Linked DNA regions of Homo sapiens. The protein of the gene in region 1 interacts with the protein of each later gene in a pairwise test. Each region holds a gene or a part of one and is shown on either strand. Other genes may lie near its edges.

Evidence for each region.
Region 2: the proteins of POMT2 (region 1) and GLP1R interact in a protein complementation assay, tested with the Homo sapiens proteins (one large-scale study listed by BioGRID).

The regions. Positions count from the first base shown.
Region 1 is NC_000014.9:77,314,230-77,318,041, reverse strand, and holds part of POMT2 (protein O-mannosyl-transferase 2), read left to right. Parts: intron 1-3,812. UniProt on the Homo sapiens protein: Transfers mannosyl residues to the hydroxyl group of serine or threonine residues. Coexpression of both POMT1 and POMT2 is necessary for enzyme activity, expression of either POMT1 or POMT2 alone is insufficient.
Region 2 is NC_000006.12:39,083,187-39,086,998, reverse strand, and holds part of GLP1R (glucagon-like peptide 1 receptor precursor), read right to left. Parts: intron 1,094-3,812; coding exon 926-1,093; 3' UTR 1-925.

The DNA.
Region 1 (3,812 bases):
TTATCCCCTACCAATACGCAGGCCTTCTAATATCCAATTGTTAGAAAATTGACAGAGGCCCATTATGTCTTCTACCTTGACACATGTGGGCCACTGTAGGGGGACTTTAAAAGCACTATACCCAACCAAATGATCATTAACTTTATGTTCTGGCACCAGGCCATTCCAACAAGACAATCTAGTGACTGAACTAGAATTAAGTCTGAATTACATAGATAGCCTCCTCCTCCCAGCTGATCTGGGCTTTCTGTAAGGGGGAAGAAAGATGAATCATGGCCAGAAATGGTCAGGGGAGAATCTCACATTTTCAAAATAGGTTTATATAACCCTCCACCCCTTTTTCCTGATCATTACCCAGTTGGTAGGCAAAAGGAGATGACCCATTTCTGAGAATGGCTGCCTTAGGTGACCAAACTGCTTCAGTAAGGTTTGCAGACCAGGAGGAGGTTAAAAACATAGAATCAAAAATCTTTTTGAGTTGATCTTTGAGGGAACTGTTCAGTACTTGACAATGTCATGCCTGTGGATGGTAGGGAGTGTGGGAGGTCCATCGAATACCTTGGCTATTGACTGTTGACACTGTTGGGTGGCCATTGCGACAAAAAGATATGCCAGTGTCAGACTGTAGATGGTTTGGAAAGCAGAAAACCTGGCAGTTTAGTTTCAAGGGCCACAGTGGTATACACAGAGTCAGATAATTGGACTGGAAAAGCAACATCAGCACTGTAAACTGAAAAAGTATCAGCAGTAGCAAGGTACTGATGAGAGCCTAGAGAAGGGAACAAAGTCCTAATGTCAATCTCCCAGGAGCAGGTGTGGTCAGTGCCCCTTGCAATGTGGCTTCCTTTACTGCAAGACAAGCAGGCCAACTTTTGGCAGGAGTCACAAGTCTGGCACGCAGTGGTGGCTTCTGCCTCAGAAACATGTAGTCCCTTACGTTGTGCCTAGCCCATGATGGTAGATGTTTCCACACCGGTTGCATGAATCCAGGTGGCTATGGCAGCAGTCTTGGTGGTGCAGGCTGGATCAGCAGTTTGATTCCAGTCAGTCTTACGAGAGTACCTGCCCTTAGTGTGGGCACCTACGTGAGTGATCCAGTCTGTCCTATTGGCAGGCAGCCATGATGTGTTTCCACACTTCTCAGCTTTCATCTCTCAGTATTTAGTCTTCCAAGTGGCATACCAAATGCTTCAATCCTTACTGCCATCAGCCATCCAGAGTTATCATTGGGGCTAAGTGCCTGCTGCTGCTTGGTGGGCAACATCAGCTTTTAACTCAGCCTAATCATTGGTGAGCCAGGCCTAAGCATTTACAGGAACCCCTGTGAATCAAGGGCCCTACTGAACAGCAGCTCGGCTTCAGGTAGCAGAGAAGGTTGTTTCTCCCAGAGTGGGAGCTGCCACTTCTTCACGTAAAACCAAGATGCCTCTAGGGCCAGGCTAGCTATACTCTTTTTTTTTTTTTTTTTTTTTTTTAGAGATGAGATCTGACTCTGTTGCCCAGTCTGGAGTGGAGTGGTACAATCATAGCTCACTGCATCCTCAAACTCCTGGGCTCCTCCTGTCTCAGCCTCCTGAGTAGCTGGCACTACAGGCACGTGCCACCATGTCCAGCTAATTAAAACAGATTTTTTAAGAGCTGAGTTCTCACTATCCTGCCAAGGCTGGTCTTGAACTCCTGACCTCAAGCCATCCTCCTGCCTCAGCCTCCTGAATAGCTGGGATTACCAGCTGTACTCTTGAATGTACTATTTCCATAGGATCAGTGAGGCTTGTTAAACCCTTCCCTTGTTATCAGTAGATTCCCATTGACCCACCCCAAAGTGGGAATACTAGGCCAGGGAGTCCTGAGGCCTTTATGGGTCTGGCAATCAATTTCAAAGTGTTGAGTAGTTAACTAAGGAGTTAATAGCTGTCCTTTTAAAAAGGGTGTGCTTGGTACCTATGTCCAGCAGGTGGCACTGTGATTCTGGTGCATGGCTCTCAGTACTCCAGCAGCCACAAAGTTGTTTTTTGTTTGTTTGTTTTTGTTTTTTGAGATTCTCGCTCTGTCGCCCAGGCTGGAGTGCAGTGGCGCAATTTCAGCTCACTGCAACCTCTGCCTCCTGGCTTCAAGCAATTCTCTGCCTTAGCCTCCCGAGTAGCTGGGATTACAGGCGCCCCTATCACGCCTGGCTACCTTTTTGTATTTTTAGTAGAGACAGGGTTTCACCATGTTGGCCAGGCTGGTCTCAAACTCCTGACCTCAGGTGATCCGCCCGCCTCGGCCTCCCAAAGGGTTGGGATTACAGGCATGAGCCACTGCACCCAGCCGCCACGAAGTTTTTAAGCCTGTGATTTATTTCCTTTCCCTTCCAGGGATGTAGATTTTTTTCTTCTGGACCACCAGGAGAGGACAGGATCACCTGTCTACACACAGCAGCCCTTGCCCAGGATAATCCTCTTCGACACTTATGGGATCAGTATCAGCTATACATTCAGCACTGGAAGCCACAGGAATAGTACATTGAAGAGGCCCAAAGAGCTCTGCCTGGAATGTCACTTTAACTTCCCTTCCCTACAGGGAGCGTGGCTCAAACATTACCAGTTTAATCTGGACACTTTTTCCCCTCGAACTAATGCGTCTAGAAGGCCTGCATCAGGGGCTATGGTGACAGCCAGCCAGAGATTTTGCCATTTCCCAGTCGGAGAGTGTGGCGGTGCTGGCTGCAGGGAGTGGGGAGAAGCTTTTTCTGCTCCTTTAGCTCTTCACTAGGCTTGCATCACGACCTCCCCAGTGTCGCTCCCTCAGGGTTAGGGGCCCTTTTCCCTTTAGTCCTTGTGCGCACTGCTATGGCTGTCCCTGCAGTCCTGAGTGTCTGCAGTAACCTCTGTGTGTAGTACATCCTTCCCCCCATGAGACATGGTAGGGTGGAGATGTGGGACCTCATATCCAGCAGAGCCCTGAGTTTGCCCCTCTCCTCCCTGGGGCTCTCCAGCATACTAGGATGGGTGTGTATGACCTTCAGTCCCCTTTAGGGACATGGAAACCTCAGCCCAACCTTTAATCATCTCAGTCTTTAATGCAGCTGAGGTTGTGGTAGAGTGGGAGGGATCCTGGGACATAAAGGGAGAGAGTGGCTCCGAGCCACAAAGCAAGTCATATTTATATTTACTTTTGGCTTGAGTACACAGCTCCCCCAAGGATCTTTCAGTGTTTCATTTTACTCAAAGTTCTATCTTATATAGCAGGGTCCTATTGCCGCACCGTTGGAGACTTGTTGATTGAGCAGCCATATCCATATTGCCTTTTGGCAGGGGCTGCTGGGCTTGCTGCCATTGTCATGATCACTCCTCTTCCTCCTTTTGCCCAGAGGACAGGGCAGTAACCAGGGTGACATTCAGTGGCTTGTTTCAATCCTACCTCTTTCCATCAGCCTCTCTAATAGTGGGACAGTGGGGGACTCTCACTACCCCATTGCCTGCCCATGGAGGCCCTCATTCTTTCTCTTACCAAAGACTATGTCTCTCCTCATCCTATGCTTGTCTCCACACTGTCAGGGGCTGTGATTTTATCTTAGCCTACTTATTAGCTAATAAGTTAGCCTGTCACTGTTTTTTGCATGCTGACAGAAGACAAAGTCTTGGGTCAGAGACAGAGGACTTTATTTCTCATGGCACAGCAAGTGGGATGTGCATCAGCATGTTGGCATCAGTTTCCTTTGCCCCTAAGTCCCACGTGGTGCTGAGGGACTGGATGAATGCTTGCACATGCAGTAGCTTGCATCACAGCTGAGTAATATTAAGCTTAGGGAATCTGCTGTTTTATGGCAA
Region 2 (3,812 bases), on another chromosome or scaffold:
TTCCAAGGAGAGGTGGAGGCAATGTCTCTCTTGGCCCTCTGGGCTCCTGGAAGTGGCAGGTAATCTACACCCACAGTCTGGACATTCCTAACGTGTCCCTAGATGAACCCCAGAGGATTCTTGAGCGTCTTTAAAATAGACTTGGCAGCTCATACCCCAGGGCTGGGTTCCCCGGTGGCAAGCCTGCCCTGATTCTCTGGGCATGGCAGAGGCAGGCACCAAAACAACTCAAATACCTGGAGGAGAAGCGAGCACCGTCTCAATGCTCATTCTTTCTCAACACCACCTACAGCCATTTCCAGAAACAGCTGCTGGCAGTGGCCCAAACAAAGCCCCTCAAAAAGAAACTGGGCAGTGAGATGAGGGGGCAAGATGAGGGAAATAAGCAACCCAGACACACAAACAGCTTCCCTTTGAGAGAAGACAGGGGAGGGTGGTGACCCCAAGTGATGCAAGCAGAGGAGGCTCCCGTCACTCCCGCTCTGTGTTTGGCTGAGGTTAGAAGAGCCACTTTCAGAACCACCTCCTCTTGCAAGCCCCAGTTTCACTAATAAGCCGTTGACCTTGAGTTTGAGTCTGGGGTTGATTTGCGGCTCTGTCTGGGGGAACCCCAAGGGCCTGTGGTTTCACAAGAAGCAATCCTCCTCATTTTCACAGCGATCGTTTTTCCTCTCCTCTCGCCACTGTGATCAAATTAGGAGGCTGCTTCTCCTAGGAGAAAATGTGTCCATGGTCCCAGGAGGCACTGCCCATTTACCTGTCTGATGGGTTTGGGGAGGGAAAGCAGGATGTATGTGTGTGTGTGTGTGTGTGTGTGTGTGTGTGTGTGTGTCCCTTCCTTCCCTTGTCCCTGGGAGTGTCTCTCCCACCTGGATTGGCCACCCGGCCTGCAGCAAGGACCCCAGGGAGGGCAGGCGCTGGAGTCTCAGCTGCAGGAGGCCTGGCAAGTGGCTGTGTACATGCTGCTGCCCGCCGTGGCTCCACTGCTCAGGCTGCTGGTGGGACACTTGAGGGGCTTCATGCTGCTGTCCCTCTGGATGTGCAAGTGCTCAAGCCGCCAGCGCTCCCAGCTCTTCCGAAATTCCAGCTGGACCTTCCATGGGAAAAGGAGGGAAACGAAAGCCATCATGCAAACCAATGGCTAACAAAATGGCCCCACTATTACATTAGTGGGGAAGGGAAGAAATCCACTGCATTATATTAAGAGACACAAGTCAAGGCCTTCGGGCTCCTAAATTAATATCCCAATAAAATTGTTTATTGTTGTCTCCTATTTTCTGCAGCTCCTCAGGAGAGAGATCAGCTTGATGACCTAATTGGTCTTTTCCATCTCTAAACTCTGTGATTCAGCTAAGTACCTTTTACAATCCATCACAGTATTATTTAACGGAAGAGAATGAGAGGGAGGGTGAAACACAGGGAGACAGGAGATGGGAGAGAGAAGAGAGACTCTGTCTTTACAGCGCACAGTCCAGTTTCAGCTTGGATGCTTGAGAAGGGGGACGGCAACCCCCAGCCTTCCTGGTGTCTACAGCAGACCCTTCTAAACTCCCTGAGGGCTTCTCTCCAGGCCCCAGCACCTCACAGGGGAGGAGGGAGGGAAGGAAGGAATGTGGCTGAGACGGGAAACAGCAGGGAGGAAGGGGCAGCCAGTGAGGGCTTCTCAACTGATGCCATCTAGAGAGACACTGCAGTGACCATGGGGGTGCAGCCCAGGGGAGCTCAGTCAGCCAGGATCCCTGTTGTGCTGGGCTCTGGCCTCCCCATCAGGAAAAGCCTCTCAGGAGGGCTGATGCTTGGGGGCCAGATTGTTGGGGCAGAAAGAGACAAATCCAAGTAACACTGTGGAGCCCCCATCCCTTGAGGGTTTGTGGCAATGCTGTGGCTCCCGGTGGTGGCCAGTGATTCTGGTCCCTGGAGAGGCCTAGCTGGAACCTGCCAAGCTAGTCCTGGGGGGTCTGGACTGCTCTTCTGGGTGATGTTCCCATACATTTGCTTTCCAGAGCTTCTTTGAAGTCCCCACCCTTCCCACACCAGAGTGTCTGGGGTCTGGGCCCTTCCCTTTAGGCCAAGTCACCAAGACAGCCAGATGCCAGCGGCTGTGGATAAGGGGCCAATCTCCCCACCAGCCCCTGTGCAAACAACCCTCCTCTCCTCCTTTGTCGTCCATCCAGCTATGCCCAGCAAGACGCCTGGTATGGCTGCATGCCATCCCTTAAAAGAACATTTTCTGCACTGAGTAGAGTTGAGATGGCCCAGAGGCTGCCTGCCAGGATGACGCCAGTGTCCCATGCAGCGTCATGAACCCAAGCTTGAGTGGGGGAGGGAAGGAGGCTGAGCAGACACCACCTACAGCCACCCTGTTGTATGCCAGCTCCCTGCCCGGCTGAGTCTTTGTGAAGGGAGCGCATGCTGACAGCTGGGATGGGGGCCCTGAGTCCAGTGGTGGCCCCCACTTGTGCAGCTGCCAGGAGGCCAGGCTTGTTTCATAGCCCTTCCGCTGGAGAGGGGGGGAAAGATGGTAAACTGAGGCACACCTCCGGGAAACCAGAGACCAAAGAGAGGTTTCAGGGACACCTATGGGACTTCTCAGGGTGCTGACACACAGTGTCTCCTTCTGCCCCCATCTCCTTCAGCACTTTTCCTGAACCTCTGCTGTGACCCCTGTAATCACGATTGTCCTTGAAAATCACCATATTTATTGGGCACTTACTGTATGCACAGAATTTTCCATTAATTATCTTAGCTGACTTTCACATCAACCCTGCAAAGTAGCTCCACATTTAAAGATGAGGAAACTGAGGTGCAGAGTGTTTATTTCCTCAGGTCGCTCAGCCAGGATTTGAACCTAGATCTGGCCTGATTCCAATGCCCGGCTCCTAACCCCTGGCCTCCTGCCTGCGTGGCTCTTGCAGTCCTGCTTGTCCCTGGTCCATCTCCTACCTCTCACCTGGGAGCACCTCGAGGGCTGGGACCACATCTTCTTCATCTCAGCATCCCTGAACCTAGCACAGTGCCCAGCATACAGCAGGTGCTCAGTACATGTGTTTTAAATGAACCAAATGAATGAACACATAAATGCATGAGCATCTCACATCAGGTTCCTTCTGTTCCTCAGCTATGAAAATGAACCCACAAAGACAACACCACAGATTCTGAGCACCTGGGCTGGGACTTAGGCCACCACACTTCCTCCTCCACCATCGGATTTTTATCCTCATCCCTGCCCTCGACCTCTGCAGTGCAGCACACCCCTCCTGACCTCCCTCTCCAGCAGGCACCATGCCAGCCTCAGGATTCGGGGTGAATTGGGAAGCTCATTCACCTTCATTTACGGCTGGGGAGACAGAGGCAAGGGAGGCAAAATGACTTGCCCCAGGTCACACAGCTCGGCAGTGGCAGGGCTGGGACAAGCACTCAGGGCTCTGAGTCACCTCACTGTGGCTCTCAGGCACAAGCTACAGCAAAACCACCTTCAGGCCTCCCCCTCCCTGTCCCCACTCACGCCCACCAGCAGCTGGTGCAGGCCTTGGCAGCCACACAGAACCAATATTCAAGCCATCTTTTCTCCTCAGGTCACAAGTACCTGGCATTGCCATGGCAACCCTGGGTCTGCAGAACAGCTCTTGTGGACAGAGGCCTTAGCCCCAGAGCCACATGTGTCTTTTGTGGCCCAGTGACAATGATGTATCTGTCCTTGTGCCTGGAGCAGCCAGGGCATGAGGAGTCTCAGGGTGGGTTTAAAGGAACTGGCTGGTGCTCTGAAGGGAGACAGGTTCTCCCGTTCTCTGAGCAGGGTCTCCTGGACCCCG